Linked DNA regions of Homo sapiens. The protein of the gene in region 2 interacts with the protein of the main gene of each other region in a pairwise test. Each region holds a gene or a part of one and is shown on either strand. Other genes may lie near its edges.

Region 1 (3,818 bases), on a different chromosome or scaffold from region 2:
AGTTTATTGGTTTTGCTTTTTCAGACCAAATAACTTACAAGCAGTATTTGTGTGAGAACCTGTTTACTTGTGTGTGTGTGTGTGTGTGTGTGTGTGTGTGTATGTGTATATATGTATATTTCAGGGTCATTGAAAAAGGGTAACAGCGTATTTTAAGTTGAAGATTTAAAGCAGCTGAGTAGAACCAGGATGTCAGTGATGGAGTACTATCCGTTGAAGGGTTTCCACTCTTACTTAGTTTAAAATTAGCAATGGCAGCAAAGAGAATAATGAAGTTTACCAGCTGTACCTGATTTGCTTATAATGAACTTCATGGTAGTAAATAAATAACACAAATTCATGCATTTGTTGAGGAAGGCTTGATTTCAGGTTACAGTTTATATAGCATGGAGCTTATTGATACAGAGTGGATCTTAAGTTTTGTTGCTGGTTGTTTTTTGTTTTGTTTTTGTTTTTTTTTTTTTTTTTGAGATGGAGTCTCACTCTGTCGCCCAGGCTGGAGTGCAGTTGCATGATCTCTGCGCACTGCAACCTCCACCTCCCGGGTTCAAATGATTCTCCTGCCTCAGCCTCCCGAGTAGCTGGAATCACAGGCATGTGCCACCATGCCTGGCTAATTTTTTTTTTTTTTTTTGTATTTTTAGTAGAGACAGAGTTTCACCATGTTGGCCAGCCTGGTTTTGAACTCTTGATCTCTAGTGATCCACCCACCTCGGCCTCCCAGAATGCTGGGATTACAGGTGTGAGCCACCACGCATGGCCTTAAAAGTTTTAAGTACATATATTTCTATTTAAGACAGAAAGAAGGTAGTTGAGGTGGTATATTGGCCACTCTGCATTTTTCTGGGCACTGGAGATAAAATTGTGACTAAGAAAACTAATTTAGGTAGAGAAGACATACAGTAAGTGGAGAAATATGAACAAAAGGACTGTTGATGGTGAAAGGTGTTTCAAAGAAAATAATCAGGGTCCCGTAATAGCAGGTGAAGGGAAGGAGGCTATTTTAGACGAGATGGTCAAGAAGGACCTCGGGCAGGAGGTGACTTAGATCAGGGTTGAATGACAAGGAGAGGCCATGTGAAGAACTGAGGGCACAGAGTTCCCAGGCAAAAGGAAGACCCAAATGGCATGAATTTGCTGAGTTCTAAGAAAAGAAAGTTAATGAAATTTGAACTTCATAAGGTGAATGAGTTCTAGGAAGGATTTAAAAGGGGCCTTGCCATATAGGGCCATAGTGAGGAGTATGGTCTTTCTTGGAAGGAAGCCACTGGGCTTTTGAGTTGGGGTGAGATGCACTCTGTGTAAACAGTGGATCTTTGAGGGGCAAGAGTGAAGCAGAGAGGCCCCTTAAGAGGACATAGAGTTGGAGTTTGAGACAGAAAAAAATGAATGGGAGGATCCAGCTTTCTGGCTTGAGCGAGTGAAGGAAGATGATGCTGTTTCAGAGATAAGGAACACTGGAAAGCTGCAGGTTTGAAGAACCTAAGTTTCTTTTCAGATGTGTTGGGTTGGAGGTATCTGATCCATGCAGGGGCTGTCTGCTACGTGGTGGAACCAGAGAAAACAAGGCTGACTGAAGCTGTGGAGGCGGATGTGAGAATGTGTAGTAGGTGGGGCAGAGCAAGAGGAGGGTCTGGGGCCAGGCTCTGAGGAGCCGCACCATTGAGAGCCAGCTGGGCTGTTCCATCTGATGGTGACACCCCGTCTGCCGCTTCACCTTGTTCTGGACACTTTCATTTCATAATGACAGCTCAAAGTCCCAGAAAAATGGCTCTGTAGCATATAGGAACAACCTGAAGCCGGATCCAGTATTCTCCACATCCACTTTCAGTGGAAAGGCTTGATGTTGATGAAGTGGGGAAATTCAGTATGGCGTAGGTATAAGGTGATGTTGACAATGATCATTTTATTGGGTATGATAATAGCAGTGGTTTACGTAGTGTTTAGAAATGCTGTGGGACAGACAAAATCTTTGTCTCCCCTCCCCTCCACCTAAGCAGCGAGTATTAGTAGTACACGGTTCTTGGGATGATGACAGCGGTTGGCTGGCATCCAGAGTAAGATAGAGGCAAACATGCCCTTTAGATGTTAGACAGCAGACAGTTAAGATGGTGGGGGAGAAGGTGAGCAGAGAGAGAAGGTCATCGGGTTTGAGGAGAATAGAAGATTTTCAAATAGGTGATTCATAGATAGGGAAGACTTTGGGTTTCTGGCTTGAGAGGTGGATGCCTGATAAAATGCCGAGCTGGCCTTCCTCAAGTCCTGGGTGGTGACAGTGCCTTGTAACTGAACAGCAGCTGCCCGTTAGGAGCTCTTGGGCCTGCTTCAGTGCCCACCGCTCCATGTCACCTTGTTGGGTCCCGGAGGAAAACAGGCCTGCCACTGACCATGGGTCTTGGGGGTGGTTGGGAATGTGTGGCTGAGGAAATGGGGAGAAGGCCACCAAGATGAGGAGGTCCAAGAGCTGCAAGGCCAGGGATTGTCCAGGTGGGTGCCCATGAGAGCGCTGGGGTCAGCCGAGTTTAGGGAAAAGGTAGATGCACAGAAGGAGCCAGCTCCAGCACCGCCCAATGCTGAGGGTGCCGGCCCTGGTCCCTGCACATCCGCGTCCAGGCAGGTGGGCGGGATAAAGCCACAGGGCACAGCCTCAGCCACAGAGCAGCAAAGTGACGATCACACAGTCGTCCTGAGAGCCAGAGGATGTCATGACAGGTAGAAAGTAAAGGCCATAAAGAATGACAGGCTAGAGGCAAAGAGGATTCTAGCATTTTTGACCTCAGTCATGAGAAGAGTGATGATACTGCTGAGGTGGAGGAATTGAGAAGGTGACCCAGTCCTGGCAGGAAGACTGCGGCCACGCAGTGGACCTGTCCTGTCAGCAGTGGGATATGCGAGATATGGGCCGTAAAGATCTCTCTCATAGGGTTGGTGTGAGAAATCATGGATTAAGCCTCTGGCACTTCGAGAAATGGCTACTTTCTCACTTTCTTTAGGTGAGAAATTATGGACAGAAGTCATCCATTTGAAATAGGAAATTTTCTTTGCTTTTCATTTATCTGTGGTGTCAAAAAGTGTTGGTCAGTTACTGCTGGTTAGTTACTACTTATTTCTAATATATATGTTTTGGTTGTTTTTTGAGACAGAGTCTCACTCTGTTGCCCAGGCTGGAGTGCAGTGGTGGGATTTCTGCTCACTGCAAACTGCACCTCCCTGGTTTAGGCGATTCTCTTGCCTCAGCCTCCTGAGTAGCTGGGATTACAGGTGCCCATTACCACGCCCGGCTAATGTTTGTTCATTTTTATTAGAGACGGGTTTTTGCCATGTTGGCCAGGCTGGTCTCGAACTCCTGACTTCAGGTGATCTGCCTACCTCGGCCTCCCAAAGTGCTGGGATTATAGGTGTGAGCCACCGTGCCTGGCCTTATTATGTTTTTCAAATACAATGGATGTTGGTTTAAATATAAAGTTCCTTAAGTTTGTATTTGGATATAGAGACAAAATAATTTACTTTGAAATGGAAAGAATTGACTGCAGTAGGGAGTTTGGGCACATCTCTGCACTGGAAATTGTCCTTAGGAGACAAATTTGATATACTCAGCTGTGTGCTCTAGCGGTGGAAAACTGAGAAGGCTCCATCCATTTCTAGTGAGTGAATGGATTTGATCACTAGTGAGAAGAATTGCGGAGATTTTCTGAGAGACTTTCAGCAATGCAAGAGAACATAAGGACGTTTTACTTCTAGATGTGAAGAAAATGACTGAAACTTTAGAAATATGAGACAGATTTAGTTGAACATTAGATTGTTGGGGGGAGTGTAAC
Region 2 (3,818 bases):
CTCGGGGAGACACTTCTCCCCTGTGAGGCCAATTGGCTCAAAGGTCAGAACCGCAATCCTGCTCTCCATGTCTCATCTTCTTCTTTTTTCTTTTTGAGCTGGAGTTTCATTCTTGCTGCCCAGGCTTGAATACAATGGCGCAATCTCAGCTCACTGTAACCTCCGCCTCCCGGATTCAAGTGATTCTCTTGCGTCAGCCTCCCGAGTAGCTGCAATTACAAGTGTGTACCACCATGCCCAGCTAATTTTTTGTATTTTTAGTAGAGACAGGGTTTCACCATGTTGGCCAGGCTGGTCTCAAACTCCCGACCTCAAGTGATCTGCCCACCTCAGCCTCCCAGAGGTTTGGGATTCCAGGCATGACCCACCGCGCCTGGCCCTCAAAGTTCCATCTTCTAACCCAGTGGTCTCCCAAGTAGTCTTCCCCTAAGGGAAGCGCAGAATGATCCACTGAGGGTGGAAGTAAATATCAGAACTTTTATCCATGTTAATGTTTACAAAAACATGACGTTCCGTTAACGGTTACTATATGGACTGACTACGAGACATTCCCTGGGCCATGTTAAGTGGTCATGTGTTGAAGACAGGACACAGCAGGTATCCTGATGGGGTTGTGGGAAAGTTTCCATCACACAGAGAGGGCCTCAGCACCACTCTTCATTCATTCAGTCGTTTTCACTTTACTGCAACCTAATGCCTGAATGAGGTTATTGAGGTTCTAAAGCTTAAACGCTGAGGCCTCAAGCATTTAGAGTGGGGAGGACAAAGACGCAGTGGAGGAGACGAGGACTTCCAGGGTGAAGCTGGTGGACAGGAGGAAAACTACGAGAAGATGACAACGTAGAAGCTGAGCAAAGAAAGGAGAAAGTGGTCAGCTGGATCGAATGCTGCAAGCTTTCAGATGAAGACTGGATTTGACAGGGTGGGACTTTAGCAGAGTAGTTTCATTGGAGGAGGGAGGAAAACAAAAGCCCAATAGGAGGCGTTTAAGATAGAGTAGGAGGTGAAGAAGCAGAGATAGTGAGTCATGAGAATTCTTCCAAGGAGGCTGCTAAAAAGGGGGCACAAAAAGTAGAGTAGTTGGAAGGGTATGTGGAATCAAGCAGCTTTTTTTAAAATATGGGAGATATCACATATTTAAATGCTGATTGAAATAATCCAGTAAAGAGGAGAAATTTGATAACAAGATAATGTGTAATTGTAAACATAAAGTGTTACAGGAAGTCAGGGACCCCGAACAGAGGGACCAGCTGAAGCCACGGCAGAAGAACATAAACTGTGAAGATTTCATGGACATTTATTAGTTCCCCAAATTAATACTTTTATAATTTCTTACACCTGTCTTTACTGCAATCTCTGGACATAAATTGTGAAGATTTCATGGACATTTATCACTTCCCCAATCAATACTGTTATAATTTCCTATGCCTGTCTTTAATCTCTTAATCCTGTCATCTTTGTAAGCTGAGGATGTATGTTGCCTCAGGACCCTGTGATGATTGAGTTATCCGTACAAACTGTAAAACATGTGTCTTTGAACAATATGAAATCTGGGCATCCTAAAAAAGGAAGAGGATAACAGCAATTTTCAGGGAACAAGGGAGATAACCATAATGTCTGACTGCCTGCGCGACTGGGCAGAAGAGAGTCATATTTCTCTTCTTGCAGAAAGCGAATAGGAGAAATATCACTGAATTCTTTTCCCAGCAAGGAATAACCCTGGGAAAGGAATGCATTCCCAGGGGGAGGTCTCTAAAATGGCCGCTCTGGGAGTGTCTGTCTTATGCAGTTGAAGATAAGGGATGAAATACACCCTGGTCTCCTGCAGCACCCTCAGGCTTGCTAGGATTAGGAAATTCCAGTCTGGCAAATTCTAGTCAAACTGGTTGTCTGCTCTCGTACCCTGTTTCCTGTTAAGATGTTTATCAATGACAGTGCGTGCCCAGCGGGACATGGAACCTCATCAGTAATTCTAATTTTGCCCTGGCCTTGTGATCTTGCTCTGCCATTTGCATTGTGATACCGTATTGCCTTTTGAAGCATGTGATCTCTGTGACCCACTCCCTATTTGTACACTCCCTCCCCTTTTGAAATCCCTAATAAAAACTTGCTGGTTTTGCAGCTCAAGGGGCACCACGGAACCTGTCAACAAGTGATGTCACCCCCAGAGGCCCAGCTGTAAAATTTCTCTTTGTACTCTTTCTCTTTATTTCTCAGACTGGCTGACACTTAGGGAAAATAGAAAAGAACCTATGTTGAAATACTGGGGGCTGGTTCCCCCGATAATAAAGTCTTTGAAAACTGTGCCCAATAGGAAGAGGACCAGTTTTTCCTTGTAACAAGAGATATGGCAGACTACAGGGTATGATGCAGATTGGCAGACAGGTAGGTAGGTAGATAGATCTGGTGGTAGGAAGATGAAGAAAGAAATTCTGTTATTAACCAGCTTCTATTTTCATAGTTAAAAAAAAAGAAAAATAAAATCAGATAAGAACAAGGAAAGAGAGACGGGATACTAAAAGTTCAAGGAAAACAAGGTTGTGAGCTGCTTCAGAGAGCAGGAGAGAGAATTCCTGAGGGAAATAGAGCAGAGCTGCCGGAGGTGCTAAGCACCACACAACGTTTGTAAACACATATTTGAAGTGTGACCAGTTAGCAGGGGGATACATTTTTCTCCAGCCACACTGTGTTACTCATGTTCAGGTGAAGAGCAGGCAGAGAATAACCAGGGCTGGGATTTTTCCAGAGTACTGAGGAGAAAAAGGCAAGGGAGATAGATGAGGGCGTCCATTATAGAGTGCAGCAGTGGACCTCATGGATGGAATCTAAGCTAGTTAAGAATGAGATGAATCTAAATCAACAACACTTCTATTTAATAGCAATTCAAAAACCCTTTTGCTCTCAATTAAAAATTATTAATATTTTAGATATTTAATTTTTAAACATCTTGCCAACTGTGATGGCTTCTTCAGATCACTAAATGTCACCAACATTCACCTTGTTACACAGGCCAAAAGTCTGATGGCCTGTGACTTGATGACTTTTTCACAGTACAACAGCAAAAGCCGTTCTCCTTTGAAAATATACTCTGGACCTAACTACTTCTCAGCACCACTACGACCCCAGGGCTTGTGCTTGCACCATTCCATTGCTCATCCTTTGTTATCTACTTTTCCACTCAGAAGCCAAAGAACTTCCAATTTAAATCAGCTGAAGCCCTTCCTTTCAACCATTCAACGCCTCTTGGTCACACCTGGAAAAAAAATCCACATCCTGGCCATGGCCCGTAAGATCCCACATGACCCAGCTCCCGGGTTGCTCTCTGATCCACTCTCCACCTCTCTGCCATGCCCAGCCACACTGGCCTCTGTCACACTCTTCAGTCTTGCCAAGCACACTGGCATCTCAGGACCTTTGTGCCTGCTGTCCCTGGAAAAGTCTCTCCTCAAAAGGTTCATGCAATTTGCTCTCATTTCATTCAGATCTTGGCTCAAATGTCAATTCCTCACAGAAACCTTCCCTGACCATCCATCTAAAAACACCAATATGCCAGGACCTTTTCTCCTTTCTTGGCTTCACTTTTCTTCAAAGCACTTTTCATTACCTCCTATTACAATCCTATTTTTCTGTCTTCCCCAAGAACGTAATGTCCACGAGGGATTTTCTGTTTTGTTCACCATTGTGTCCCAGGTGCCTACAATAGTGCATTTCACATGTGGTAAGCATCAATAAATATTTATTCAATAAATGAGTCGTTTTTTAGTCTTCTTTTTGTGCATTTAAAAAATATATTTACCCAGTAGTACAAGAATATAATT

The links.
Region 1: the proteins of SCCPDH (region 2) and PAXIP1 interact in a two-hybrid assay, tested with the Homo sapiens proteins (one large-scale study listed by BioGRID).

The regions. Positions count from the first base shown.
Region 1 is NC_000007.14:154,971,807-154,975,624, reverse strand, and holds part of PAXIP1 (PAX-interacting protein 1), read left to right. Parts: intron 1-719; exon of another isoform or gene 720-3,818.
Region 2 is NC_000001.11:246,727,338-246,731,155, reverse strand, and holds part of SCCPDH (saccharopine dehydrogenase-like oxidoreductase), read right to left. Parts: intron 1-3,818.